4 linked regions of the Homo sapiens genome follow. The protein of the gene in region 2 purifies or fractionates together with the protein of the main gene of each other region. This does not show direct contact. Each region holds a gene or a part of one and is shown on either strand. Other genes may lie near its edges. The genes, in order: SLC2A4, EHD2, EPN3 and EPN1.

Region 1 (8,049 bases), on a different chromosome or scaffold from region 2:
TGGGCCGGGTAGAGAGAGCTGGCTCTCCCACCCCTGCCTGGCCCCTCAGTCGTTCTCATCTGGCCCTAAATACTCAAGTTCTGTGCTGGGTTTCACCTCCTGCTCTAAAAGAGAGGGTGTCCGGTGGAAGGCAGCTGAGATCTGGTCAAACGTCCGGCCTCGAGTTTCAGGTACTCTTAAGAAGGTGAAGATGAAGAAGCCCAGCAGGAGGACCGCAAATAGAAGGAAGACGTAGGGCCCCATAGCCTCCTGGGACAGGTGGAGAAAGAGGTGTTGACGGAGTGAGGTGGGGAGGGAAGGGGTAGTTTCAGGCAACCAGGAGCTAAAGGCCTTCATAGGGAGCTGGGGGGACGGCAGACAGCAGCTGCCTCCTCCAGGGACAAGGGAAATGAGCAGGAATGAGAATTTACACTGAAAAGAGGATTCTCTGAACCCCAAACACTCTTAGTTTTCGCCCTCTTCACCATCCTCAGTTACTGCACTCAGAGGAGAGTCCCAGCTGTTTGTAGTATTAATGCAAAGTGTATCATTTTATTCTTGGAGTAAGGTAAGTTATGCCACTGGTGCGTTTCAGACACCTCAGTTACTATCCAATCTAGGTCAGCTCCCTTCCTTGCTTTGATTCTGTGGAGCAGGTGGTCCACCAAACTGACCCAAAGACCCATGGTCTGTGGCTGGAGGAGTCCCTGACGGGGAAGCAGGTGGGCTAGCTGTGTGATGCCCACCTCTGGCCTACGGTGTGGGAGGCTGGGGCGGGGGGACCTACCGCAACATACTGGAAACCCATGCCAATGATGAAGTTGCTCGTCCAGTTGGAGAAACCAGCCACAGCCATGGCTGCCGGGCGGGGTCCCTGGCTGAAGAGCTCGGCCACGATGAACCAAGGAATGGGGCCAGGGCCAATCTCAAAAAATGCCACGAAGCCAAAGATGGCCACAATGGAGACGTAGCTCATGGCTGGAACTCGCTCCTAGGGGCCAGACAGGGAGGGTGGAGAATCCAGTTGAGGCCTTTCTGATCTTCCCTTGCCCTCAACTCAGAGAAGTGAAACCTAACCCCCTCCGCAGCAGCTTGTAGGGGGCCTGCTGTCCCGGGTTAGAGCAGGCCCTTGACTGGCATTCTGCTGGCTATCCCAAGTGGGTTCAAGGCAGAGGAAATGTTATGGCCTCTCAGTTCTTATGACGGTCAGCTCTCCCTGGACTCTAAAGCTGGGTCCTTAGGAATGATTGTTCCTGAGGCTTGACAGGGGCTCTCCCTCCTGGCTGCCAGAGTTGTGCCACAGCTGCCTCCCAGTGCAGCCCAAATCCCTCAGGAGCAGACCACAATCCCAGCAGATTCTGGAGCCAGTCAGCCCCAGTCCTGGTCCGGAGCTGGCGCCAGGATTGAAAGCATGTGTGTTAAGAAGGGACCCTGGCTGGTCACAGAGACTCACAGGACCATTCCCATGGGGTGGGCTGCTAGCCCCTCCTAGCCTCCAGGCCTTACCAGCAGGAGCAGAGCCACAGTCATCAGGATGGCACAGCCACACATGCCCGCCAGGCCCAGGAGATGGAGCGTCCGGCGCCCCGCCCGCTCCACCAACAACACCTGCGGGGAGAGTCGGAGCTTGACCCCAGCCTTTTGGGCACGGGAAGTAGGAGGGGCCGCGTGGGTGAGGGCAACCAAGAGCAGGACCTCCGGGACACCCAGGGAGGTGAAGCCAGTGGCTCGGGCCATTCCAGAGGTGAGCAGTTACCGAGACCAAGGTGAAGACTGTGTTGACCACACCAGCTCCTATGGTGGCATAGGCAGGCTGGCCTACCCCTGCTGTCTCGAAGATGCTGGTCGAATAATAGAAAACCTAGAGGTGGGGGAGAAGAAGAAGTGATGGCAGGAATGCCCCTTCCTCTACTCCAGCCACAACAGGCTGGCCCTACCCTGGGTGTTGGTGGAGGGGGTTTGCTCCCCACTCTCGTCTACCCTCCCGGGGCTGTGCCCTGCCTGGAGGCTGCTCCACACATACAGCATTGATGCCAGAGAGCTGCTGGCTCAGCTGCAGCACGACCGCAATGATCAGGGGCTGCCGGTGGGTACGGCTGCCCAGGAGCTGGAGCAGGGACAGTGGCCGCTCACGCTCCAGCTTCCGCTTCTCATCCTTCAGCTCAGCCAGCACTCCAGAAACATCGGCCCAGCCTGTCAGGCGCTTCAGACCTGGAGAAGGGAAGGTCAGGCCTGAGGGGACCTGAGAGGAAGCCAGGTGCTAGCAAGATGAGGCGGAGGCATGGGCCTGGGCCAGGCTGCAGCGGGAGAGCTTACTCTTTCTGGCAGGCCCCTCGAGATTCTGGATGATGTAGAGGTAGCGGGGGCTCTCGGGACAGAAGGGCAGCAGGACCAGCTGCAGGAGGGCAGGTAGCACTGTGAGGCCCAGGAGCAGTGGCCACAGGCTGGCAGTGCCCAGGAGGGACTCCAAGCCCAGCACCTGTGGGAGAAGGTTGGGAAAGAAGGCAGGTCACTCAGCCCTTCTGCCTTACCTTGGAAGCCCACCATATTCTCCAGAGCCCCACTCTAACCACTGCCCAGGCACCCATGAGGCTTGCTCCGGTCACCTGGGCGATCAGAATGCCGATAACAATGGCCAGTTGGTTGAGCGTCCCCAGGGCGCCCCGCAGGTGAGTGGGAGCAATCTCCCCCACGTACATGGGCACCAGCCCTGATGTCAGCCCTGGGCGAGGGAAGAAGAGAGGGCTGAGGGCAGGTGTCCATTCCCATCTGAAAGCCCAGGCATGGTGAAAGAGAACAGGGCGCTAGGCAGGGCTGTGGTGCCCGTGAGTACCTGAGTAGGCGCCAATGAGGAATCGTCCAAGGATGAGCATTTCATAGGAGGCAGCAGCATTGGCCAGGCCCATGAGGCTGCCCCCCAGCACCGCCAGGACATTGTTGACCAGCATGGCCCTTTTCCTGGCAGGCAGACAGAGTGAGGCTGTGAGGGTGAGGGCACCCAGCAGTGGCTCCCTTCCTGTTTCCCCCACCCCTGCCCTCCAGCTGCGAACCTTCCAAGCCACTGAGAGATGATACCAATGAGGAAGGAGGAAATCATGCCGCCCACGGAAAAGATGGCCACGGAGAGGGCCCAGAGGGTGGTGAGGGTGCCTGGAGGGATGGAGCTGGGTCCCTCAGGCCCCTGCCTCCCCAGCCACGTCTCATTGTAGCTCTGTTCAATCACCTGGGGGACAGCAGAGGACAGATTTCCTGCAGACCGTCCCCTTTCCACCACCCCCGAGACACCTGTCCTCCTCGTTTGGGTACCCCCACCCTGCCAGCTGCAGGCCCTCACCTTCTGAGGGGCATTGATGACCCCAATGTTGTACCCAAACTGCAGGGAGCCAAGCACCGCAGAGAACACAGCAAGGACCAGGGTCCCAGTCACTCGCTGCTGAGGGGGTTCCCCATCCTGAACAGGCAGACACAAAGACACAGCATGTCACATGGAACCATGATTTTTTTCCTTCCGCTAGGGGCCCGGGCCCAGCTGGAGCCTGAAGATACTGGGCTCCACCCAACATGTTGGGTGAGGGAAACTGGGCCATATTAGGAATTGCACAAAGATCTCAATGTAAACAGGAGCTGAACTGCAACCTGGGCATAAAGGAGAAACTGGATGTTTGGGTCCATAAGGCAGAGAAATGTTTGAGAACTTGTCTCAAAATTCTTCTGTGACCTTGAGACAGGCTTGGCCTTAAGAGCTCAGATTTGTGTGACCTTGGCCAAGTCACTTCCCTGCCCCGAACCTGAGTGTCCTCTGTGAGATGGGGGTGATGTTGCCTGCCTTGCCTACCTATCTGTGAGAGTGTTGTGAAAATCAACATCACATGTTAACAATATCCTTGACAGTGCTGGTTTCATAAATTAACACGTGCATTATTATCATCAGCCACTGTCCTCTTCCCTCCCCTCTGGGGGTTCTGTCAGCCAGCTCCAGGAGGCCCCCAACAGGACCAAGAAGTGCTGTTCCAGAAAGGACATCCCGGTCATCTAGGGGTGGCCTTCTCTATCTACGTCGTGGCCTGCCCTCCCCCTCTAACCTCCGTGCAGGGAGGGCCGTCCAGGGGTTCTGCCTGGGAGAGCCATGCCCAGGGGAGGAGGGCAGGAAGGTAGTGTGAGGGGCGGTGGCAGTGGTGGCCGCTCGCTGGCGGCACAGACTGTCTCCAAGCGGAAACCTGAGCTGGAGGAGGGGGGGCTGACAGTCCCCTCTGCCCCTCCACCAACCATGGGGCCAAGGGAAAGTTCAGCGTCCTGGAGGGCGGCCAGGAGTGGGGGTGGGGGCCCACGGAGAGCCTCCGGTCCTCGAAACACTGCCCGTGAGCGAAGACGGACGGACAGCTCCCGGAGGGCAAGACCCGCCTGGATCTGCTTTCCCGAGTCGGATCGAGGGCAGGGTGTCCCCGATTCCGGAGCGCCGCGCCGCCTACTAGGCAAGGGGGTGAACCCTGGCTCGCAGAATCCACTTGCTGCCTGTGCCCCGAAAGGCCCTCCAGACCCACTCTGCCTTTTGGTAGGATTGGAATCTCACAGTCACGGGTTGTCCAGGCCGGGTATAAATAGCCAGCCCCCTACCTTCACCCCCTGCGCCTGCGCAGGAACCACCCCCAGCTGACCCCAACCGCGACCCCAGCCCAAGAAAAGCGGGACCCGTGCCCCCCCGCCCCGCCCCCTCATGATGAATCCTACTTCGGAGCCTATCTGTTGGAAGCCCGACGGCATCTCGTCTTAGAAGAGCTGGACGCGCAGGGGCGGCGAAGATGAAAGAACCGATCCTGGAGTCTCTGACTCCGGCCTGGAGCGCAGAACCTGCGGAGGCCGCGGGGGTCCCGGAGTGACGTGCGAGGGCGGGCCCGATGGGACCCACAGCCACAAGCCAAGGACCCGGAGAGCAGTGGGGCTCCCGCGGATCTGGTGGAGCGGGGCTGGGGGAAAAGACGCGAGAAGCCCCCGCCACCTCGCTCCTGCCCCCGCGGGCCACGCCCTTCACAGCACCCATTGGCCAGGAGCCCGCACACCCCAGAAGGCCACGCCCCCTCCGCCTGGGGTTTAGAGTTTGGCTGGAGTTGGTGGGGCGGGCCAATGAGGCCACGCCCCTCCGCGTGGCTGGCGAGACACGCCTCTCGGGTTCCCGCCAGCCTCCGACTGGGAAGTTTTGAGAAAAGAGTCCCTGGAACAAAAGGCCCCGCCCACCCACGTGTTAGGACTCCGCCCACCAGCTAGGATCCCGGGCTGCAGAAGCATCTTAAACTCTGCGGGTCTGGACAGTGGGGTCTGAGAGGAGAGGACGGGCCAGGTGTACTTGCCCCGGGGAAACTCCAGCGGCCTGAGACGGCTCGCGAGCCGGCGCGCGGGTTGGGAGAGGAGCAATGCCCCAAAGTAACCCGGGGCTGCTATTTTTAGCTCCCACGTTGGGAGCCTCCAAATGTCAGGTCCCGGGCGTCCCGGCCTGTCCCAGGCGGGGGCGGAGAGACAGGGAGATGACGCCTTAAAGAGTCCGCGACATGCTTCCCACGCGAGTGTGGCCCTGGGGGCCAGGAAATTCCGTTCCCACAACGGGTCTGGTGGCCGGGCTGCTTGGTCCTGTCTTTCAGCGCCTCCCTGCTCCGGGCACTGTCTATCCCGCCCTTCCCCTACACACATTCCCCAGGTTGGTTCCTGGAGCCGGTCCGAGGGACAAGTGGTCACAACCGACCACACCACCAGCCCTGAGGTCTCTGAGCCTCTGAGGTCTCTGAGCATATGCTGGCCGCGTGAACGACACGCTCTCTGGAGGCTGCTCCGGGTTTGGATCCTCGGCCAAATTCTGCCAGGCAGAAAGTGCGCGACCTAGGGTCGGCGTGTGGGGAGAGAGAAGCCGAAATACCCAGAGCGTGGAGAGTGTCTGGCTCAGAAAACGGGCTTCGGAAGCGCAGGGTTGTGCTGCCACCTGGAGGGCGAGCGAGGAGCCGCAGTGGATTGCACTTGGAATCTCAACCCACTATTTCTCGCCTTTCCGCCACCATAGGGCTTCAGTGACATCTGACCCAGGCCCTTCTCTGGAGCTGCAGATCCAGGTGTTCGTTACCGCCCGGATGTGGCAGCTCTAGTGATCAGCATGTCCAAACCTGCTCCTCCTCCTAACTTCCTTATTTCAATGAATTACCCGCCCAGTCACCCCTATGGTAGAAGTCAGGCTCGATTCCTCCTGTCCTGCGCCGCTCTCCTCGTTTATCCAGTTAGTTTCCAACATTGGTGCTTTGACCTCCAAAACTCTCTCACATTCATCCGATATTCTCCGTGGCGGCTGCCACTTCAGTCCAGATCACCATCACCCTCACTGGTCTTCGTGCTCCTCTTATTTCCTTTATGACGAGGGCAGAGAACAATTTTCGAAGGTCCAATCTCATCTCTCAAGCAAGAAGTCACTGTCTCTGTTGCCCCAATTGCCAAGTTCAAATCCCTTTTCAGAGTGAACAAAACCTCCTGCCTCTCTTATCCGATCTCTGGCCTTACCTATCTCTCCTGCCTCTCCTTCTATCTCCTTCGCCTCCTGTTCTGGGCAATGCCTAAGTCCTTATTGTACCCAGAACACACTGTGCCTTTACATCCCTTCTTGATTCCTTTGCTGCACTAATCCCCTGAAAAATCTGGAATGCCGGCCCGGCCTGGTGGCTCATGCCTGTAATCCCAGCACTTTAGGAGGCCAAGGCAGGTGGATCGACTGAGGTCAGGAGTTTGAAACCAGCCTGGCCAACATAGAGAAACCCCATGTCTGCTAAAGATACAAAAATTAGCCGGGCGTGGTTATGCACACCTGTAATCCCAGCTACTCGGGAGGCTGAGGCAGGAAAATGGCTTGAACCCAGGAGGTGGAGGTTGTAGTGAGCCAAGATCGTGCCCTTGCACTCCAGCCTGGCGACAGAGTGACTCCGTCTCAAGAAGAAAAAAAAAAATCCGGAATTCCAAAGGACTCCTCTTCATCCTTCAAAGAAAGCTTCCTCACCCAGTTCCTGCTCCACAGGTTCACTTTGTTTCCGGCTTCTGGGGACCTTGATCCCTGAGTTCCAGCACAGAAGATTGAACGAATGACAGTTATTAGCACACTGTCTTCACTGATCTATGTCTCATTTTTATTTTTGTTTTTGTTTGTTTTGAGACAGAGTTTCGCTCTTGTTACCCAGGCTGGAGTGCAATGGCACAACCTTGGCTCACTGCAACCTCCATCTTCCGGGTTCAAGCCATTCTCCCGCCTCAGCCTCCCGAGTAGCTGAGATTATAGGCATGCGCCACCGGGCCCAGCTAATTTTGTATTTTTAGTAGAGATGGGGGATTTCACCATGTTGGTCAGGTTTGTCTCCAATTCCCGACCTCAGGTGATCCACCTGCCTCGGCCTCCCAAAGTGCTGGGATTACTGGCGTGAGCCACCATGCCCGGCGATTTTACTGGTTTTGAGTTGAGGTCTCTGTTGCTCAGGCTCGAGTGAGAGGCACAGTCACCGATCACTGCAGCCTAGACTTCCTGGGCTCAAGCGGTCCTCTCACCTCAGCCTCCCAAGTAGCTAAGACTACACGTTCGATTCACCACACCCAAATGCTTATTCCAATGCATTCAATTATTCCAGTGCATTAAATGTTCATTTTTTTCTTTGTGCTCTTACAAAATATAAATCATTTTGTGTGCAAAGTTTTTTTTTTTTTTCTTTTTATGAGACAGTGTCTCGCTCTGTCACCCAGGCTGGAGTGCAGTGGGGCGATCTCCACTCATTGCAGCCTCCGCTTCCCAGGTTCAAGTGATTCTCCTGTCTCAGCCTCCGGAGTGGCTGGGATTACAGGCTTGCGCCACTGTGCCTGGCTAATTTTTGTATTTTAAGTAGAGACGGTTTCACCATGTTGGCCAGGCTGGTCTTCAACACCCGACCTCAAGTGATCTGCCCACCTCAGCCTCCCAAAGTGCTGGGATTACAGGTGTGAGTCACCACGCCCGGCCCAAACATTTTAAATTTCCATAAATAGCATCTTGTTATATATTTCACTCTGATCTTATTTTCA
Region 2 (7,506 bases):
CTCTCCTCCAAAGAAGCCCTCTCTGCCTGCCCCAGCTACCCCGCCCCAGCTCTGACCACACTGGGTCATCGGTGCCTGGGGATGGATCTGTCTCCTCTCCAGGAGCCCCAGTGAGGACTGAGCCCTGGAACTGCCTTCATTATTTAGGACTGGGAGCCCCAGCAGGACAGGACTGGAACCATCGTGGTCACTGTTGTGTCTCCTGCACCACCCAACACCAGGCCAGGCATAGAGGAGATTTTGTTCAATGCAACTGTTTGTTCAATGTCATTCATTCAATAAATATTTACAGAGCACCAATTCTGTTCCGGGCACTGGGGATAAATCAGTGAAGGAATTCAAAGAGCCCTGATTGGCTGGGTGTGGTGGCTTACGCCTGTAATCCCAGCACTTTGGGAGGCCAAGGCGGGCGGATCACCTGAGGTCGGGAGTTCGAGACCAGCCTGACCAATATGGTGAAACCCCGTCTCCACTAAAAATACAAAAAATTAGCTGGGTGTGGTGGCACACGCCTGTAACCCCAGCTACTCAGGAGGCTGAGGCAGGAGAATCGCTTGAACCCGGGAGGTGGAGGTTGCAGTGAGCTGATATCGCACCACTGCACTCCAGCCTGGGCAACAGAGGGAGACCCTGTCTCAAAAAAAAAAAAAAAGAAAGAAAGAAAAAGAAAGAGAAAGAGAAAGAAAGAGAGAAAGAGAAACAGAGAAAGAGAGAAAGGAGAGGAGAGGAGAAGAAAGGAAAGGAAAGGACAACAGGGTTAGGGTAAAGAAGGACGCATATGGGGGAAGTTATATTCATTCAAAGGAGGGCATGGACAGCCTTCCTGAGAAGGGAGCATTTGAGCAGAGTCTTGAAAGGGGTGAGGAGGGAGTGAGCCTTGTGGATGGCCAGGTGGGAGGGGGAAGAAGGCAGAAGAGGTTTCCAGGAAGAGGGAGCAGCAAGTGCACAGGACTGAGGCCACCAGCGTGAAGTGCAGGGGACGCTGGGAAGGGAATGGGAGATGAGGACAGAGGAAAGGAGTGAGAGAAGGGGACAATCTGTGGCCACAATCAAACAAGAGTCATGGGAGACGGGTGCTGTGAAGCGCCTAAGATGTAATAAATTCATCTTTTTTTTTTTTTTTATTTTGAGACAGAGTCTCGTTCTGTCGCCTAGGCTGGAGTGCAGTGGTACAATCTCAGCTCACTGCAACCTCTGCCTCCCGGGTTCAAGTGATTCTCATGCCTCAGCCTCCCAAGTAGCTGGGATTACAGGTGCCCGCCACCACACCTGGCTAATTTTTGTATTTTTAGTAGAGACGCAGTTTCACCATCTTGACCAGGCTGGTCTCGAACTCCTGACCTCAAGTGATCTGCTCCCCCCTCGGCCTCCCAAAGTGTTGGGATTACAGGCGTGAGCCACCGCACCCAGCCTTCATTGTTATTTTATGTCTGTTTACTTATTCTGTCTCCCTCCATCAAAAGATAAGCCCCGGGGCTGGTCCAATGGTAGTGGGTTATCAGAACTTTTTTTTTTTTTTTTAATAGAAATGGTGTCTCACTATGTTGCCCAAGCTGGTCTTCAATGCCTGGGCTCAAGCAATCCTCCAAAAGTGTTGGGATTACAGGCGTGAGCCACCGCACCTGGCCTTGGTTATCAGAACTTATTAGTGTCAGTAAAGTTGGCATGCAACTCCCCACCCCCACTGCTAAATTTGACTAGCTTATAAATAAATTAATTAATTAAATTTAAAAAAAGATGAGCCCCAGGAGGGCTGGAACCTTGTCTGTTCCCTCCATCCCCAGCCCCAGCACCATGTGTACAGAAAGCATTCCAGAAATACTTGTGGGCCTGGCGCGGTGGCTCACGCCTATAATCCCAGCACTTTGGGAGGCCAAGGAGAGCGGATCACCTGAGGTTGAGAGTTCAAGACCAGCCTGACCAACTAAAAATACTCTACTAAAAATACACAATTAGCCGGGCATGGTGGTGAATGCCTGTAATCCCAGCTACTCGGGAGGCTGAGGCAGGAGAATCGCTTGAATTCAGGAGGCGGAGGTTGTGGTGAGCCGAGATCACGCCATTGCACTCCAGCCTGGGCAATAAGAGCAAAACTCCGTCTCAAAAAAAGAAAAGAAGAAGAAAAAGAAATATTTGTGGAATAAACCAATGAACTTGGAAACCTTTGAACCACAATCTTATAAATTATCAAAAAATAAAGAGGGTAGAATAATGAGTATTTGTCTGTCTATATTTTATAGGAAGTTCAAAAATTCAACATACTCATGCCTGCAATCCCAGCACTTTGGGAGGCCAAAAGGGGAGGATCACTTGAGGGCAGGAGTTCAAGACCAGCCTGGGCAACACAGTAAGACCTCGACTCTACAAAAAATAAAAAATTAGCTGGGCGTGGTGACACGTGCCTGTGGTCTCAGCTACTTGGGGCAGGCTAAGGAGGAAGGATCACTTGAGCCCAGGAGTTCAAGGCTGTGGTGAGCTGTGATTGCATCATTGCATTCCAGCCAGGGCAAGAGAGCGAGACTCCATCTCTTAAAAAAGAAGGAAGAAGAGGGAACGAAAGAGGATGTAAGGAAGGAGGAAGGGAGGAGGGAGGAAGGGAGAGAGGAACAGAGGAAGGAAGGAAGGAAGGAGGAAGGGGAGGAAGAAAGAGAAGAAGGAGGAGGAGGAGGGAGAAGAAGAGGAGGAGGAGGAAAGAGAGAAGAAAGAAGAAAAAGAGGAAGAAGAAGAAGAGAAGGAGGAGGAGGAGGAAGAGGAAGAAGAAATAGAAATACCAGGACAGAGAAGCCAGGGTGACACGGAGTTGACACAGAAATCCAAAGGCAGAGGAATGAGTCTCTCCATACAGTTCTTCCTCCCGGCTTCACTCTGTGCCAGAATGACCCAACTTCAAGAGAACTAACTAACCTGGGCCCTGATAAGTCAGGGACTCACAGCACTGGTAGGAGAGGACCGAGGAAACCTCCTCCAAGAATGCGCGCCCAGCCCTCAGGACTACTCACTCGCACCAGCCGGGCCCTCTTCACCAGGTCGTTGAGCTTGCGCAAGGCTGCGTGCCGGGGCAGGCCCTGGATGTCGCGGAAGAGGTCCTGCTCCTCCAGCTCGAAGAGGCGCCGGTTGTCGGGCACGAGGAGGGGCTGGGACCAGAAGGAGCCGATGTAGACGCGCAGCACCTCGGGCGTGCCCACCACCTTGCCCAGCGCCCACATGAGCGCGCCGTAGACGCGCATCAGCTGCTGCGTCTCCACCATGTCGGCCTTGTTGAGCACCACGCGGATCTTGTCCTCATGGCCCCGCAACGCGCCGATGGCCTCTGAGAACTCGTCCGAGATCTCCAGCTTGTGCGCATCAAAGAGCAGGATGATGAGGTCCACGCGCTCCGCGAACCAGCGCAGCACGGCCGGGAAGTCGTAGCCTGGAGTGGGAGTGGAGAGACAGGGGCGCAAGGGGCAGAAATCAGACCCCCACCCTCCAGCCATTCTCAGTAGTATCCCATTCTCTTGCATATTGGACTGTAAAGATGTTCACGTTGTTGGCTGTCCAAATCCTGTCTGGGCAAAATAGCCAAGGCCCTCAGTGGGCACTACTGCTCTGGCTCTCCAGTGCCCAGAATTTCCCCCCTCGCTCTGGCCCCAGCCCCTCAAGCCATCTGGCTACAGGGGGCAATCATCCCCCTTTTCCTTTGCTCGAGCACAATGGCGGGATCACGCCTCCCTGCAACCTCTGCTTCCCGGAGCTCAGGTGATCCTCCCACCTCAGCCTCCCTAGTAGCTGGGACTGCAGGCGCGCATCACCACACCTGGCTAATTTTTTTTTTTTTTTTTTTTTTTGAGTAGAGATGGGATCTCACTATGTTACCCGGGCTGCCGGGCTAGTCTCAAACTCCTGAGCTCAACTGATCCTCCTGCCTCAGCCTCCAAAATGTTGGGATTACAGGCGTGGGCCACCGCGCCCAGCCTCACGGCCTCCATTTTTTCATTTGCTCATTCATTAAGCAGTTATTACAGGTGTGCGTCGGTATGTACATATAGGTTGTTAAAAATACTGACATGTTTGCTAAGAGATCCCCCTGTGCTTCTATGGAACCCCCAAGCCTGCCACATGCCTCTATCACCCCAGCTCCTCCCCAGGACCTGTTGTATCTCCCCACGATCCAGCAACTAGAGTTCATGCTGGATAGCTGTGCTCTTGCCATAGCAGATGATAATTTTTTTTTTTTTTTTTTTTTTTTTTTTTTTTTTTTTTGAGACAGAGTCTCACTCTGTCGCCCAGGCTGGAGTGCAGTGGCATGAATGTGGCTCACTGCAACCTCCACCTCCACCTCCCAGGTTCAAGCAATTCTCCTGCCTCAGCCTCCCGAGTAGCTGGGATTACAGGCATGCACCACCACCCTGGCTAATTTCTGTATTTTTAGTAGAGACGGGGTTTCACCATGTTGGCCAGGCTGAGAAGTTAAATATTTTGCATTTATTTAGCAATACTTACTGAGAGTCTCATGTGTGCCAAGCCCTGTCCTGGGAGCCTGGGATACCGCAGAGAACACACAGACAAGATTCTTGCTCTTATGAAGCACCCATCCCAGCCATGGGTTCCCATGCTCATTCATTCATTCCTTTCACCATTCATTTCCTCATTCACTCCTTCATCCACTCATTCTCACCTTTGCTTCTTCACTCATTTATTCACCAACAAGCAATGCTGAGGAGAGCAGAGAGAAGCGATTGAGACCCCCTGACTTAGCTGTCTGGAAGACCTGGAGTTGAGTCCCTCCTCTGCCCCCATCCACTGTGTGACCTTAGGCAAGTAGCTTAACCTCTCTGAACTTGTGTTTTCTTTTCTGTAAAATGCAAATCATAGGACTGTTGTGAAGCCAGGTGTGATGGCTCAAACCTGTAATCCCAGCACTTTGGGAGGCTGAAGTGGGCAGATCAATTGAGGCCAGGAGTTCAAGACCAGCCTAGCCCTAAAAATACAAAAAAATTAGCCCGGTGTTGGTGGCTCATGCCTATGGTCCCACATATTCAGAAGGCTGAGGCACGAGAATCGCTTGAGCCTGGGAGGCAGAGGTTGCAGTGAGCCGAGATAGCATCACTGCACTCCAGTCTGGGCGACAGAGTGAGACTCTGTCTCAAAAAAAAAAAAAGACTGTTGTGAAGATTAAAAGAATATAAATGAGCTAATATATATAAAGAGCTTAAAATAATGCCTGGCATTGAACTGTACATTTAAAAATGATGGAAGTGGCCAGACAGAGTGGCTCACACCTGTAATCCCAGCACTTTGGGAGGTAGAGGCAGGAGGATCGCTTGAGCCTGGGAGTTTGAGACCAGCCTGGGCAAGATGACAAGACCCTGTCTCTACAGAAAAAAATAAAATAAAAAATTATCCACACATGTTGGCATGCATCTGTAGTCTCAGCTACTCAGGAGGAGGAAGCAAGAGGATCACTTGAGCCCAGCAGTTGGAGGCTGCAGTGAGCCATGATTGCGTCATTGCACTCCAGCCTGCAGACAGAGCAAGACCTTGTCTCTTTAAAAAAAAAAATGGTTGAGCTTTTTTTTTTTTTTTTTTTTCAGACGGAGTCTCGCTGTCGCCCAGGTTGGAGTGCAGTGGCGCGATCTCAGGTCACTGCAACCTCTGCCTCTCGAGTTCAAGCAATTCTCCTGCCTCAGCCTCCCGAGTAGCTGGGATTACAGGTGCCACCACACCCAGCTAATTTCTGTATTTTTAGTAGAGATGGGTTTTCACCATGTTGGCCAGGATGGTCTCCATCTCTTGACCTCATTATCCGCCCACCTCAGCCTCCCAAAGTGCTGAGATTACAGGCATGAGCCACTGAGCCCGGCCATAATGGTTGAGTTTTTATGGCGTGTACGTTAATCCTCAATGAAACTGTTTTTTTAAAAACAGTGCTGGATGTACGGTAAGCACTCAGCAAGTCATGGTGATGTCACCCACTGGGAAGCACCCTCTGTGGTCCCTGCTGTGTGTGTGGAGGCTGAGGCAGTTTCAGCTTTGTCCTTACATCTCTCAGCCCACTGGGGACACAGACCTGGCCCCTGAGTGGTCAGCCCAGGGTGGGCAGGGGGATCCAGGGAGCTGTGGGAGCCCAGGGCCAGTGCCTGACCCAACCCCCAGCCTGGGGGTCAAGGAGGACTTCCAGGAGGAGGGAAGGCAGAGTGGGAACCCGGAGGACGAAGAGTTAACTGGCAGAACAAGGAGCTAGCCCTGATTTACTGACTTCATGCCCTCCAGCTAGAGCTCACTCAGTGACTCTTCACAACAACCCCAGGAGGTGGGCACTGTTCTGACCCCATTTTCCAGATGAGGAAACTGAGGCACAGAGAAGTTAGGGGACTAGCTAGGCGTGGTGGCTCACGCCTGCAATCCCAGCACTTTGGGAGGCTGAGGCGGGTGGATCACCTGAGGTCAGGAGTTCGAGACCAGCCTGACCAACATAGTGAAACCCCGTCTCCACTAAAAATACAAAAAAATTAGCTGGGTGTGGTGGTGGGCACCTGTAATCCCAGCTATTCGGGAGGCTGAGGCAGGAGAATCACTTGAACCCAGGAGGCGGAGGTTGCAGTGAGCCAAGGTCCTGCCACTGCACTCCAGCCTGGGCAACAAGAGCGAAACTCCGTCTCAAAAAAAAAAAAAGAGAGAGAAGTTAGGGGACTTACTCAAGACACACAGGTAAGAGGCGACAGAAGAGGAGTCCCATGGGCCCCTATGCTCCTCCGGGGAGCTGGTGCTTGCACCCATCCTGCCTGAGAGGAAGCAGCCTCCTTGCGGGCAACGCAGGGACCGGGATGGGGTTGGGGGCCGTTGTTTTGGGGGAGGAAGGGCCAAGTCACTGGAGGGACAGCAACTGGAGCCCCCCCTCCCTCCCGGTGTCTCCACAAACACACATACTGGCCCAGATTCGGAAAGTGTGTCTCATGGGGCGGGGAGGGAAGAAGGGAGAGAGGTTGAGTCAGTGTGGGATGGGAGACGTGGCAAAAAGGAACCTTGGGCCCACAACGGCACTCACCCAGCGAAAACAGGCATTGTTGGCACTTCCATAGCGCCTACTGTGTGCACACACAAGTGTGCACCTTCTAAGTGCTTTGTATGTTTTAACTAATTTAACCTTTAGGACAACTATGAGGCCGCTAGTATTATTATTCCCAGTGTGTGTGTGTGTGTGTGTGTGTGTGTGTGTGTGTGTGTGTGTGTGTTTTGTTTTTCTGTTTGTTTATTTTTGAGACCAAGTCTCACTCTATCGCCCAGGCTGGAGTGCAGTGTCATGAGCTCGGCTCACTGCAACCTCCACCTCCTGGGTTCAAGCAATTCTTCTGCCTCAGCCTCCCGAGTAGGTGGGATTACAGGCAAGCACCACCACACCCAGCTAATTTTTGTATTTTTAGTATAGACAGGGTTTCACCATGTTGCCCAGGCTGGTCTCGAACTCCTGACCTCAGGTAATCTGCCCACCTTGGCCTCTCAAACTGCTGGGATTACAGGCGTGAA
Region 3 (6,325 bases), on a different chromosome or scaffold from region 2:
ACTCCCCATGCGGAGAAAATATGTCCATGAGCCCGAGGTGTTTTCAGCACCATGTGCTTAGGCCAACCCTAGTCTTGATTGACAGTATCACATAATCCTAGCATGTCAGAGCTGGAACTATCCAATAAGCACACTGTGCAGAAGGGGAAACTGAGGCCATGACAGTGACATGCCCCAAGTCATAGAGTAAGTGGCAGCAAATCCAGAACCCGAATCCGGGGGTCTCCAATCAGGAACCTTTTGCATCCCACTTTGCTGTTAACTCAGTCACCAGCCCATGCAATGTGGGACTAGGGCTGCTACACCCCCACCCCTATTTCATCGAATAAACACATCAGTGCTTACTATATGCCAGGCACTGCTCTGCTCTCTCTTTACAAATACTCAGTCCATCTCTTAGGCCCTGTCCATCCCAAGCACCGCAGCCCACTCCCTACCTGGCTGGTTTTTAGCTTCTCCTCCTCCTTTCTCTCTTCTCTCTCAGGCTCTCTGTCCCGCTGATGGTGGACCACGGCCCCTGCACCATTGGCCATGGGGGAGCCATCACCCTGCCAGGACCTCACCTCCTGCAGAAGGCACAGAAAGAGTTAGGAGCATGAGCAGCTCAGGCGGGAATCCGGGGACCTGTGCACCAGAGGCTGGAGTCGAGAGAGTGCAGGGTGGGAGGCAGCTGAGAGGTTAGGAGCAGCAGGGCCACCGGGTACAGCGGGAGGAGGCTGTTAGTGCCCTGAAGCACCTCCACCAGCAGCAGCAGCAGCACCGGCAGCCCAGCGGGCTCGGCCCACTACCTTCTCGTGCTCCTGCCGGCTCAGGCGCAGAGCCAGCTGCAGCTGCAGGTCCTCGTCCCTGTGGGAGGCTGGGGGGACAGGCTGCGGAGGAAGAGAGGGGTAAACTTGGCCCTGTACCCCCACCTTGGGACCAGAAGGGCAGTATAGGCCTGCCTGGGTCATGGGGATGGAGACACTAATGCCCACCCTCAGTGTGCATGGGCCATTTGCCGCTCAGTCAGCAGGGTGGGCGTGGCCTTCTCCCTGCCTGCATCTGAAATGCAGTTTAAAGGTCAGGAAGACTGATCTTTCGCTTCTGAATCCTCTGAGAGTTCCTCAGGCCCTCCTGTGTGAGGCCCAGCTGCTTCCTGCCTGGTCTTCCTGGATCCACAGAGGTAATGGCAAAGATGATGATATCGGGGGCCTGTCCTTGTCTCCCCAAAAGGATAGCTGGTGGGCGGGGGTGGGAAGCATATCCCAGTGTCTCCTAGGAATATGTCTGAGCACACTCACCCACTCCACCATGAGGTGGTAGCAGGCACCCCAAGACATAGCATGTGCCCCTAATTGTACACTCGCCACCCTTTCCAGGCCCAGTGGAGAGGACTGGAGGCAGGGAGGCAGTCCCTGCCTGCGACAAACCGACAGAGATAATGGGTCTTGTGCTGTCCTTGGGCACAGGACTGGGGCTTTGGGTGACAGAGCCTGAGTCAAGGCCAAGGGGCTCCCAGGCACTCTCTCCCCCTAGCCCATCCCCTCCCCACCGCAGTGGGGCTGCATGGCCTCACCTTCTCTGCCTCCTCACGGCTCATGGCGAGGGCCAGCTGCAGCTGCAGTTCCTCTTCCCCTGACGTCTGAGGCCGGGCCTGCTCCAGGTCGGAGGTATAGCGGGGTGACGAAGAGGAGGCTGCAATGACCATCATGTCTCTGTGACCACACGATTACCCATCGGCTCCCACACCCCTCTGCCTGCCAGGAAGCTGAGGCTCAAGAGAACTGAGAGGAGGGGAACAACGGCCGTTGAGGCCCCCGTGGGCCAAGCAGTGTGCCAGGCACTCTGTAAGTTCCCCATCCCAACCCATCCCGGATGGAGGGGCGGCTCCAGTCCCTCCTTAGCAGATGCACAGGCGGCACTTAGGGCCCCTGACCAGGTTCCTGAAGCAGGACTTGAACCCAGGTGCCCTGACTCCAGCTCTTGGACTTCCAGATGGACCCTGTCCTGGCTTGGGGGCAAGGGAGGTGCAAGGATAGGAGGTTCTAGTCCAACGAGGTCACAACCTCAAAGCCCTCAGCAAACTGTCAAGGGCTTTATGGAAGGCGGGCCATTCTGAGTATTCCTCAGATCCTGGAAGCCCCCATGACTGGGGGCAGGAGAGTCAGGGACTGTCTAGCCGCTGCCCTCAGGTAGGGGGATGAAGGGGAATGCCATGTGTCTGGGTGCAGGGTAGAGGACGTTCCTGAACCTGGTCTCATTTCATTCTCAGATCAAACAATGGAGGTAGGTGAGCTTATCCCCACTGTACAGATGAGGAAACTGAGGTTCAGAGAACTGGTTGCCCAGGTCACACAGCTTGGAGGAAGCAGAATATAGAATGCTATCTGACTCCAAACCCATGCTTCCACTATCGCGCCATCCTATCAGGCAGCTAACGAATGATAATGAATCTATAACAACGTTATTATCTGAGCTAACTTGTTGAGCACCTCCTATGTGCCGGGTGTTGCGCCTTGCGTGTTACATTCCTTATGTCTGAATCTTCATAACACCCCTCGGAGGTAGGTATTATGAACCATGGCTTGGATTGCAGAGCCAGGAATGGAAGTCGGGCCACCTCCCCATCCCAGCCACACACCGGGGCTTACTCACAGTTGTAGGAGGACGGGGAGCCCCGGGAGCGGCTGTAGTCCTCGCCGTAGCGGCGGCTGAAGCCCAGCTGCCCACTGCCAATGCCGATGCCCTCCAGTGCCATGCGCTCCTTGGTCTTGAGGGCGTGGGTTCGCTCCTGCCGCAGCCGCTCCTCATCCTTGAGCAGGGCCATCACCTGCTTGACCTTCTCGCGCACGTTGACGCCCTGGTCCTTGCCGTCGCGGTCGATGTACTGGAAGTCCTTGAGTGTCTGGATGGTGTAGAGGTTCTCGCGGCACTGGTGGGCCACCCGCTCGGAGCCCGTCTTGAGCAGGTAGTCCAGCAATGTTAGAGCCTTGTACACGTGCCGCCAGTTCTTGCCGCTGTCATTGAGCCGCCGCCACAGCATGCCCATGACTTCGGTGAAGGCCACTGTGTTGAAGGTCAGGTCAGCGATCTCGGACATGAGCGAACTAGGGGGGCCCCAGGGGTCATTGCTGGTGGCCTCGCGCACCTTGATTTCTGCCTCGGAGTAGTTGTGCACGATGTTCTTCACCTGGCGCCGGAGTGCGGAGGTCGTCATGGCTGGAGACTTGGAGGTGGGTGGCCCTCGCCCCCGCCGGAGGTGGAGGGCTGAGGGCCACTGTGGCGAGGTCACAGTCTTGAAGGATGGGCTGCCGTGTTAGCAGAGCAGCTGCATCCTTGGGTTCCACATGGGGCTGAGGAAGAGAGGGCCAGGAACTCAGGGGCAGAGGCCTACCTCATGGGTCACTCAGCCACTGACCAACTAAATGAGGCCTGGCCAGAGTGTCCCTGCCTCCAGGGACAGCCTTCAGCGGCACACGTTCTTATTTCACTTACAATTCAGCAGGCACTTGGAGCTTTGCATGCTCATCTATCTATCTTCACAGCCACACCCCAAAGATGCTATTATCATTACCTCCATCCACAGATGGGAAAGGTGGGGCTCAGAGTATTAAATGGGCCCGGTGCAGTGGCTCACGCCTGTAATTCCAGGACTTCAGGAGGCCAAGGCAAGAGGATCACTTGAGGCCAGTAGTTGGAGGCTGCAGTGAGCCATGGTCAGGCCACTGGGCAACAGAGCGAGACCCTGTAATATTAAGTGACTTGTCCGAGATCACAGAGCTGCTGCATGGGGAACCAAGATGACCCCAGGAAGCCCCACCTAAGAGTGCATGGCCTCATGGGGGAACGCTAACAGGATTCCAGGAATGCCCGCTTGCCTTGCTTCTGCTCGGCCACTGCCTCTGTTTCTGCTGAGATCTAGCTTAAGACCTATCCTTCCTAGCTCCTCAGCTCACTTTTCTCATATTGTTAATTTTTGTAGTTTGATGCATTCAACACCTATTTCCCGGAGGCCTTTTCTGAGCCAGGCACCATGCCAGGCACAGAACACACGCCTTGGTCCACCCACGTTCAGTTGAGAGGGTACAGAAAATCACAGTCCAGTGTGGGAGTGCAGAGCCGCACAGGAAGACCCAAGCCAGGAAAATCAGGGGAGACTTCCTAGAGGAGGTGGTGACAGAGCTGAGATCCAAGATCACAAGGGAAGAGTAAGGAGGAGTGAACCAGCAAGTCAGGGGAGGGCGGCTCAGAAGAAATGCTATGACCTGGGCCAGAAGGCAAGAGAGCAAGTATCGTTTGAGGAAGACTGCCCCTCAGAGTTCTGGCCACTGCCAACACTCCTGCATGCCACCCCCACGTACACATGGAAGTGTTGAGGCCAGAGAGGGGATGGGACCTGCCTGCATCATATGGCACGTAAGTGGCAGAGCCTGGACTACCATCCAGGACTCCAGAAGACTAATCCAATTCTTATTGTCAGTGTTACCCAGTTTGGTCATTATTTCATCGGATTGCTTTACTGTCTCAGTCCCACCTTCTCAGCTAGAATGGAAGCTCCCTGAGAGTAGGAACAGTCTGGGTTCTCCAAAGCCCCAAAACGCTGGACACATAGTGGACCTCTGGTACCCCAGCAGGGAGAAGAGCTGGGCCAGCCCAATTCCCCCCAGTAGCCACAGGTCCAGGCTATCTGCTGAATACAACTCCAGGCCCAAGGTCCTCCCAAAGGCCCTTTCAGAAACCAAAAGAGGAATTCCCTGACCACCACCATTCCTCCCACACTAGCACTGGTGTGTGCATGCACACACACACTGTCTGGGCCTGCAGAGCCTCCACTTCACCCGTGAACTGTCCCCCACCCACCAAACACCTTTCGGCTCCACCCTCCATCCCAGCCCGTGCCCCAACTGGTCCCCAGGCTGCCAGAAGCAGGAATCTGAAGGAGACTGTCCTCTCGCACCCGATTCCACGCTCCTTCCACCCCAGCCCCGCCAGTGCTGGGCTCAGTTCAAAGCAGCCCCACGCTTTGAAAACATGCCTTGGCAGGTTTTGTTGGGGGCCCAGAGAATAAGATACCGTGGGAGTGGGCGAGGTGGAGAGTGCCTGGCCCACAGCGCAGCCTACCTTTTGTCTGCTATCTCTTTCCTTCCAGCGGGTCGTGGGCCTTCTGTGGGAATGCCACGGCCACAACTTGTTTAACTCCTGCCCTCCCCCTTGCTAGTGACTCAGACCTGCCTTCACCTCCCCAACCCGTGGCTGGGGGTGGCAGAGTCAAGATGGGAAATAATGTGCACCAAAGCCCGCCCAGCACACGCCCCTACCGGCTGGCCGCTGGAACTAGCAGAACCAGTCGGGCACTGTGACTGCACCAGAGCCCTACCTGGACCTGGCTGCCCTGGCCCTCCGGCCTGGCCTGTGTGGGGGCACCAGCCTCTGGGAGGGGACTCTCGGTGTGGGCCCAGCGGCCCTGCCTGGACCTTTCTCACAGAAGGTGGGCATTCTCTGCACACCCCTGCAGGGGCTGGGGGGAAGGGCGGGGCCAGAAACATGGGGAGGCACCTTGATTTTCCTTCTCTGGAGTTTGAGGGGACAAGGTGAGGCTGCCCAAGCACAGAGAAGGGAGGAGGAAAGGAAGAAGCCTGCCCAAGCGCAGAGAAGGGAGGAGGAAAGGAAGAAGCCTGCCCAAGCGCAGAGAAGGGAGGAGGAAAGGAAGGAACGCGGGAACGCGGGAGGGAGCAGCTGGGAGCGCTGCCAGCAGTGTTACAAGCAAAGGGTTTTATCGAACACGATATGCCCAGAAATAAAAGGGAGTGTAACAGAAACCCAGCGGCCGATAAGGCGGTGGCGGTAGCAGCAGCAGCCCTGGGCAGCTGGGTATGGAATTACTGCAGTGACCTTGAGCCAGACCCTGTCAGGTGGAGGGAAGGGCACAGAGAGGGCAGGGCCTGAGAATTCAGAGATGACGAGAGGGCAGAGGAGGGAGGAAGCTGAGGGGATGGGAGCAGGGCCAGCAGGCGGTGGGATGGGCCACGGGGCACGGAGTATCAGCTCTCTCCTGCATACAGGGTCCCAAGGAGAACTGCGCAGTAGGGAGGGGCTGCTCTTCTCAGGGCCTGCAGGATGGGGGGATCTGGAGAGTTTCCCAAAAGTCAGGACCGAAAAATGCAGATCGCTCATCCCCAGCAAGGGTTTCGGAGAGATGGAGAGAACCCAGATCTGTCCAGTCACACGTGCATGAGTTTGCGTAAAGTCTGTGCACCCACCAGCCCAGCCCACACCCTCTTCCCGTCCTCTGCTAAGGTGGGCTCCAGCCCCTGCCTCCAAGTCAGATCCAGCCTGAGCAGTGGGG
Region 4 (7,506 bases), 8.0 Mb from region 2:
TGCTCCCCCAGCAGGGCAGCCCTTACTCGGGTCACTGGGCTGTGGTGGACACTGATAGAGACCCCCTGGCCGAGGCCAACCTAAAGAGGCTTTCCGTCTACCAAGAAAGTCCCACTGTGCCTGATCACTTATGGCCACAAGCTGTCTGCCGCCTCCCATGGAGAGGAGGCCTTGTCCCCACCCCTCAAACTTGGGCTGGCCTCAGGACCTGCTGAGACCAATAGCAGTGCACAGGCTGACGAGGCAACTCCAACCCAGCCCGACGAGCTTGTCCTGGGGGGCGGCAGCAGCAGCAGCTACTGTGCTATGAGGACACTCAGGACAGACTAGTAACCAGGGAGAGGCCAGGGGAGGAGGCTGGAGGGCAAGGCCAGTGCGGACACCCCGGGCCCAGAGGCATGAGTGACCTCAGCCATGACACGAAACAACCAGCCAGCGGGCCCGTCACAGGGAAGTACTGAAGCGTGACCTGGAAGCACAAGGTTGTGGGAGGGTTTGCTACTCAGCTGCAGAGCATGGGGACGCCACAGAAACAGTGTTCGCGAGGGCGGGACCATGCCTCCTCGCTCACCAACAGGCCCTGGGTGTGCAGCACACGGCCTGGCACCAAGGAGGTGCCCGACAAAGTGTGACAGATGGGGCGAGCCCTGCACCCTCCTCCCTGTGGCCATGCCAGGCTGTTGGCCTATTCTGGGCCTCCCCATTCAGCTGTGGCGGCCGGTGGTGGCCCTCACGGTGCTCAGCCCGAAGGGGGATGGCCAGCGCTGACCACAGGAGGTGGCCGCAGGGCAGCCTGGTCAGTCACCGGCCTCAGCCCAGCAGGGAGGGAGAGGCACAGAGAGGCCGACCAAGCCTGGAAACCCGGTGCCCAGCTCCAGGACCTTGTGTTTCAGTCTCTGCTCCAGGGACCTGGCCACGCAGGAATGAGCGATGGGACGGACGGACACCTGCAGGGGCCAGGGAGGGCAGAACAAGCCCCGCTCACCTCCTCCTTGCCCCCAGTCTCCCTCTTGCTCTCCTCGATTGCCATCTGCAGCCGCAGGTCATCCCCGCGACGGATCCGCTCCTCCTGTTGGGGCACGGGCACGACCAGGGAGACATGAGAACGTGAGCCACGGGCAGATGCCACCTCAGCCTGGAAGCCCCAGCAACCCCTCCCACCCCAACGAAAGCGGCTGAAGGATTCGATGGGATGCGGACAATGTATGAAATGGGGATGGGGCACCTGGGTCAAAGGTCAGGCGGGACAGGGGATAAGGGGAGTGGGGTGCTGTGCTGGCGCACCCGGGGAGGACGGGCACCCGCCTCGGTGGTATCTCCTGCGTTGGGGGGAGGAAGGGACCCTGGTCACCCGAGCAACCTTGGCACAGCTGTGCTGGCCACCACCCAGGCTCTGTCTGACTTGTGGTCCTACATCCTACGGCTGAAGGTACTGAGGTTTCAACACGCGTGAGCCTGTGGGCTTCGGGCCCAGCAGGATGGTGGGGGGTGACTTAGGAAGGGGCGACGGGGCTGGTCTGAGGGGAGCCCCTGGCAGGGGCAGGGACAGGGAGGCTGCTCTGACCTTATCATGCTCTTCTCGGCTCAAACTAAGGGCCAGCTGGAGCTGGGCGTCGTCCTCGGGGCCGCAGGACGGGGGCTGGGGGAGAGAGAGTGTGAGGGGCATGACGGGAGGGGCCAGAGGCAGAGTCAGAGGCAGAGCCAGGGTCAGATAGAGCCGAAGAAAGAGAGGGCTGGGGGTCCCTGAACCAGTGAGGGACAGGCAGAGAGTGACACGCAGAGGGACGGCGGGGTGAGGATGAGGCAGGACTGGGGAGGAGACGAGTGACAGCATGTGGAGCAGCGACAGTGAGGGCCAGGCCCACGCCTGGCTGGGAGGGAGCCTGAAGTGAGGCGTGGAGGCGGGTGGCGGACAGACAGCCCCAGCTGCACGCCCAGTACCTGGTCGGCCTCCTCCTTGCTCATGGCCAGGGCCAGCTGGAGCTGCAGCTCCTCCTCCCCGCTGCTCTGCGGCCACGCCTGCTCCGCCTCGGGAGGGGGGCCTGAGCCCACAGCTGCTGATGAGGCTGGAGGGCGGGTGAGAAACGCGTGAGACCCAGACCAGGGAACGAGAGACAGGAAACCCCATAGCCTAGACAGACGGGGGCTTCTGTGTCCAACCCCACCCCCCAAGTCCCCCACCCTACAACCTCTGCAGGCCAAGACTAGGACTGAGAGGCGGAGACCAGACGCCAGGTGCTCAGAGGAGGAAGGGTGGGGATGCAGGCAGCCCCACCCACGGGAGGGGCCAGGCATCAGGGAAGGACCAGAGCAAAAGTCAGTCTGATAAGCAGGTGGGGAACCCCAGCAACCTCTGAGCCCTGCCACCACCAGGACTCTCCGCGTGCCTGGGGTCTGTCCCTGGGCCCCTGGGGGATGGGAGGTCCTTCCTCCCAGGTTTCCCAGGCCTGTTTCCAGGGCTTGTTGAGAATGGTAGCTCTGGCAGGGAACAACTGGAATTCAGAGGGGAGAACAGCATCCATTGAGACAGCGGGATCCAAGGCCTAGTCGGGGTTAGGGAGTGGGCTAGCGAGGAGCCCTTGGTTCCAAGAGCAGGAGGGGAAGGGAGAGAGAGGACACAGGAAGGCAGGGCCGGACCCTCCAGGAGGCTGCTGAGATATCCCCGGCCTCCACTGCAGCATCCTCTCAGCAACCCCGCCTACCCTCAAACTCTGTCCTGACACTGTTCTCTCCACCCCCAAGGCCTGTGGACCCTTGCCCCCCTCCACAGTGCAGAGGACAGGCTCCAACCAGGCCCTAGGCCCGCCGAGCACAGGGCCATTGCCCCAGCCTCCAAAGCCCCAGGGCGGACCCTGCCTCTCCTGCCCCGCCCTCCCAACCACTGTGCACTGGTCAGCAAGTTCTGTCTGCTCCAGCTCCAAGACGCCGCCTTGCACCTGTGTCCTGTACTTGTGTCCCCACCCAACCCACTCCCCAGGCCCAGGCCTCTCCCTGACGAGCAGGCCCTGGCTCCCCTTGCCCGGAGCCGCAGCAGGCAGCTGTCTGGCGGCCCCACCTGCACCGGGTCCAGGGGCCCCCAGGCTGGCCCCCGTGTGGTGTGCCCAGCAGGGCTGGGTGCATGGGATGCTCCAGGGAGCATGTGGGTGGCAGAGCGGGGCCGAAGGGTGACCATCTGGGGTTATGAGTGAGGAAAGGACGAGAGAACCAGCAGGGATTGACGGACTTGGGTGGGTAAGCGGCCTTCTGAGGGGATGGGCAGATGGAAGGGCAGCGTGGGGCACAGGTGAGGCCAGCGCACAGGGAGGACCACACCCCTGTGGCCCCTCCTGCTCTTCCCTGCCCCTGTGACTTCCTCCTAAGCTCTAGGGACTCTCAGAGGTGAGTGCTGGGAATCTACACCCCATTGCCCAACCTCTACCTTGCACATGCCCCTAACCCCCCAGCCTGGTGGTGGCTAAATCCAATGCCCAGCAGCCCTGAGGGCCCCACCTCCCACATCACAGGTAATACTGGCACCCAGCCAGCAACACCCGGGCCTTCCCATCACCAGAGCACCCAGCCTCGGTGCTGCCCGGGGACCACAGGCCCTTCCCTGCCCACTGAGGGTCTCAGGGCTCACTCCCTAGCTGCCCCCATCCTCCTCCCCAGCCACAGCCCTCCACACAACTCACTCCAAGACAGGGGCCAGCACACCACAGTGGCAGCCACAGCTGGCCTGAGAAGGTCTAAGAAAGGCCTTTACATTTTTCAATGGTTGGAAGAAATGAAAAGAATGCACCAAGATGGGCGAAAATTCAGAGTACCCTTAAAAAATTAAATAACAACTTAAAAGTCTTAAAAAAGACACGTGAAAACTACATAAAATTCAAATTTCGGAGACCTTGGTGAGTGTCGGAGGGGTGCAGCTGCTTCCCAGCAACCGCCAGCGGACGGGGCCAGGCAGCTAGGATGGGAAGGCGTGGCCAGCAACGCAGAGGACATTAGCTCTGGCCTTGCACAAAGTCTGACGACCCCCGAGCCAGGATGTCCCACCCTCAGGCCTCTTACCTGAGGCTCCCACTCTCCTCCGAGCTACTGCCAATGTCCCTCCTCCGTCCACCCCAACCCCGCCACCCACCTGCCTGCCTGCCTGCCTCGAGCTGACCAGCCCCTCTCTGCCGCCTACACTCCCTCCTGTTGTCCCTGGCTCTGAGCACTCCCACGCCACACCGGCTTCCTTCCCTCCACTTCACTCTCTCTCTGCGTTCACGCCCATCTACTGGCTCGTGGGTCCCTACTCTGGAGTCCCAGGCAGGGTCGCACACACCCCGTCACACCCATGTCTCCCCGTGGGTGCTGAAAGGTGATCCCAAATGAGACCCGTCCAAACAGAAGGCCTAGACTTCCCCAAACAAGTCCAGTCCCTCGAGCCGGACCCCACGAGGGCCACAGGCCCTTCCTCCTGTCTGCACCGGCCTGGCTGACCCACCTCCACCTCCAGGGCAGTGCTCTAGCAGCCCCTCCCCATCCCACGTATCCCCACTAACTGAGGCACCTCCACTCTTCCTGGAGAGCAGAAGAGCCTGGCAGACATTCTCCAGCCTCCCTCCCAGTCCTGAGCAGCCGGACTAGCCTCTTCACGGCTGTGAGCCCCCGACCAACACAGACCACACTTCCTGGAACAGTCCGAGACCCACACACCCATCACATAACTGGAAATGTTTCGTGGGACAGATCTTGGCTTGACGATGTGGGATGCACTATTTCAAGTTTTGTTTTCGGTGCTGGTCACCACCCACCAGACTGAGTCCTCCACCTCCAGAAGGCACTGTCAAGGCTCCTAACACAGGCCCAGATGCCTGGTGCAACCTGCAGGCCCTGGCTCTGGCCTTCCTTCTGTGCCTCTTCCAGGCCCCCCTCTGCCTCTCCGATGTTCCCCTCATCTCAGCGCAGAGAGAAGGACAGCACCCTCGGGGGTCACTGTGCGTGTCCCCTCAGAGCCCTGTCCCCAGCACTGATCACCCTCAGGCCCTGAGCCTATGGGGGAGCGGAATAAAAGTTCCCAATTCTAGGCCTGCCCTGGGGCACGAGGCAAGAGGCAGGAAGGGTCCCAGAGCTGCTGCATGGGAGGTGCTAAGGGAAAAAAAGGGCCCAAGTGAGACCAGAGCAAGGGGCCCAGGTGAGGAGAAGCAAAGGGGGATGCCGCGGTCCCTCCTGGCTGGGAGAGAAAGCAGTGGGCGGCCGGGTGCCGGGAGCCGCAGTAGGCGGAGGACAGACTCTAGGCCGTCAGGGGCCGCAGGGAGGGACTCACCCGTGGCGGTCTGTGCCAGCTTTTCCTTGGTCTTGAGCGCGTGCGCCCGCTCTTCCCGCAGCCGGTCCTCGTCGCGCAGCAGGGCCACCAGCTGCTTAGCTTTCTCACGCACGTTCACGCCCTGGTCCTTGCCGTCGCGGTCCACGTACTGGAAGTCCTTCAGCGTCTGCACGGCGTACATGTTCTCCTTGCACTGCTGCGACACGCGCTCCGAGCCGGTCTTGATGAGGTACTCCATCAGCGTCATGGCCTGCGAGCGGGCACGGGGATGCCCGGTCAGCACGCCGGGCACAAGGCGGGCCAGAGACTGCCTGCGACGCGGGCTCTGGGGCGGCCGACTGGGCGCAAGGCCCACAACCCACCTGTCGCCAGTGGGTGGACACACATCTGTCCCCACAGAATACGACACGGCCATGCAAAGGAATGAACACAGACCCACGCTGTGACGGGGACCAGCCGCGGAGGTACTGCGCTCAGCGACAGACGCCAGCACAGAACGCCACACAGCCTACGGTTCCATCGACGTGAATCATCCAGAATGGGCAAATCCAGAGAGACGGAGTGGATTGTGGGTTGCCAGGGGTGGAGGGAGGGATGGAGAGGGACCACCTGAAGGCTATGGGTTTTCCTTCTGGGGCAATGAAGACGTTCTGGAGCTGGACAGAGGTGGTCGCCCAGCACTGTGAATGGGCCGAAGGCCACTGAACTGTGCGATATGAAGGGGGCTGCACAGTGTAGGAGCTCCATCTCAATCCAAATAAAAGAGGAAATGGCAGCTACAGGCACCACAGCCGCCATGGGCATCGCCTGGCATCCTGGAGCCCTGTCTATTTCTTTACAACTAAAATCTAAAGTAACATGGCCAAGAAAACCACATTAGTTAAATCACAATGAAGGGGGTCTTAGTACTAGTTTGAAATGTGTATTTCTGACTGTAAAACCTCACGCTGGTACTAACAGCCTGGAGCAGTAGTTTATCACCTCTGCAAGAAGGGAAGAGATCCACGCAAGGGCCTGTGTAGGCCCGGGCTCTCTTGGGAGGGGCACCCAGGTTCCACACCACCAGGAGCAAAAGGACAGGGCGGAGGGAACATTATCGTTCAATCTGCACCCTTTGGTATGTTTGTATTTTATAATACGAAAACAAACTCCCTTTCAACAAGTTGAAATTAATAGTGGGGGCGGGGGGACCAAGGTCTCTGAGGCTCTCCCTAGCTCAGGCTCAAGTCCTGGGCTTGAGGAGTCATGGCCCCCTTAAGGCTCTGCAGGGGGTGTCTTGGTCACTGACCTCAAAAAAAGGCACAACTTTGATTCTGCAGGGGATTCCAGGGCCTTCACAGAGCCACAGAAACCCACCCAGGGCTCCTAGGGGAAGAGTCAGCTATCACAGCTAAGCTCCGTCTGAACCAAGGAGAAATCTGCCAGGAAAGATGCCAGGGCCATTCATATCTCCTCACCCTCTGAGGCAGCTGGACCTAGCTCTGGCAAGGCCTTTCAAAGGTGTGTTAACAGTATTTACAGTGTAATCAGAGATTAGTCTTTAACCGGCCCTCAAGGTATTTACACGAAAGAAAGGAAAGCAGGTAAGCCATTGCTATGCCTGATCACACCCCAAGCCAAGAGGCAGTCCCAGGTCCACAACTCCTGGGGCCCTTGTGTTTTGGAATTCAGAATTTTCCTGAGTTCAGACCAGGAAAATAACGCACATACAACACATAAGAGAACGCGCTGGGCAGAGTCGTGCCAACAGCCACACTACTGTGGGACCAACAGACACCATGTGAACGACCTCACTTCAGTCTGGGTCAGACTTTGTGCCGAACGGATCATGAAACACTTTCGTTTCCAGAGCTCTCTGGACTTTGGTATCGCAGCTAAAAAGATTGTGAAGCAGGAAATAGTGCGAATACCCACGCACAGTGAAATGCATACATCAACTATGGCACGCTCACACAGCGGGACTACCACATACACTGAAATAAAAGAGAAATGAGGCCAGGTGTGGTGGCTCACGCCTATAATCCCGGCACTATGGGAGGCTGAGGCAGGTGGACCACCCGAGGTCAGGGGTTCGAGACCAGCCTGGCCAACATGATGAAACCTGTTTCTACTAAAAACACAAAACAACTGGCCAGGTGTGGCGGTGCACACCTGTAATCCCAGCTACTCAGGAGGCTGAGGTGGGAGGATCCCGTGGATCAGGGAGGCAGAGGTGA

What was found.
Region 1: the proteins of EHD2 (region 2) and SLC2A4 purify together in Homo sapiens (affinity purification with western blotting, with the first as the bait; one study listed by BioGRID). This does not show direct contact.
Region 3: the proteins of EHD2 (region 2) and EPN3 purify together in Homo sapiens (affinity purification with western blotting, with the first as the bait; one study listed by BioGRID). This does not show direct contact.
Region 4: the proteins of EHD2 (region 2) and EPN1 purify together in Homo sapiens (affinity purification with western blotting, with the first as the bait; one study listed by BioGRID). This does not show direct contact.

What each region holds. Positions count from the first base shown.
Region 1 is NC_000017.11:7,278,626-7,286,674, reverse strand, and holds the start of SLC2A4 (solute carrier family 2, facilitated glucose transporter member 4), read right to left. Parts: upstream 4,958-8,049; 5' UTR 4,741-4,957; coding exon 4,708-4,740; intron 3,431-4,707; coding exon 3,314-3,430; intron 3,203-3,313; coding exon 3,030-3,202; intron 2,938-3,029; coding exon 2,813-2,937; intron 2,702-2,812; coding exon 2,586-2,701; intron 2,459-2,585; coding exon 2,296-2,458; intron 2,191-2,295; coding exon 2,003-2,190; intron 1,841-2,002; coding exon 1,736-1,840; intron 1,588-1,735; coding exon 1,486-1,587; intron 971-1,485; coding exon 767-970; intron 250-766; coding exon 46-249; 3' UTR 1-45. UniProt on the Homo sapiens protein: Insulin-regulated facilitative glucose transporter, which plays a key role in removal of glucose from circulation.
Region 2 is NC_000019.10:47,721,718-47,729,223, reverse strand, and holds part of EHD2 (EH domain-containing protein 2), read right to left. Parts: intron 3,413-7,506; coding exon 3,000-3,412; intron 301-2,999; exon of another isoform or gene 103-300; intron 1-102. UniProt on the Homo sapiens protein: ATP- and membrane-binding protein that controls membrane reorganization/tubulation upon ATP hydrolysis. Plays a role in membrane trafficking between the plasma membrane and endosomes. Important for the internalization of GLUT4.
Region 3 is NC_000017.11:50,533,428-50,539,752, reverse strand, and holds part of EPN3 (epsin-3), read right to left. Parts: intron 3,333-6,325; 5' UTR 3,197-3,332; coding exon 2,635-3,196; intron 2,460-2,634; exon of another isoform or gene 2,252-2,459; intron 1,827-2,251; exon of another isoform or gene 1,675-1,826; coding exon 1,556-1,674; intron 1,163-1,555; exon of another isoform or gene 999-1,162; intron 870-998; coding exon 789-869; intron 567-788; coding exon 438-566; intron 1-437.
Region 4 is NC_000019.10:55,683,430-55,690,935, reverse strand, and holds part of EPN1 (epsin-1), read right to left. Parts: intron 5,541-7,506; coding exon 5,291-5,540; intron 2,067-5,290; coding exon 1,942-2,066; intron 1,640-1,941; coding exon 1,565-1,639; intron 1,070-1,564; coding exon 986-1,069; intron 1-985. UniProt on the Homo sapiens protein: Binds to membranes enriched in phosphatidylinositol 4,5-bisphosphate (PtdIns(4,5)P2). Modifies membrane curvature and facilitates the formation of clathrin-coated invaginations. Regulates receptor-mediated endocytosis.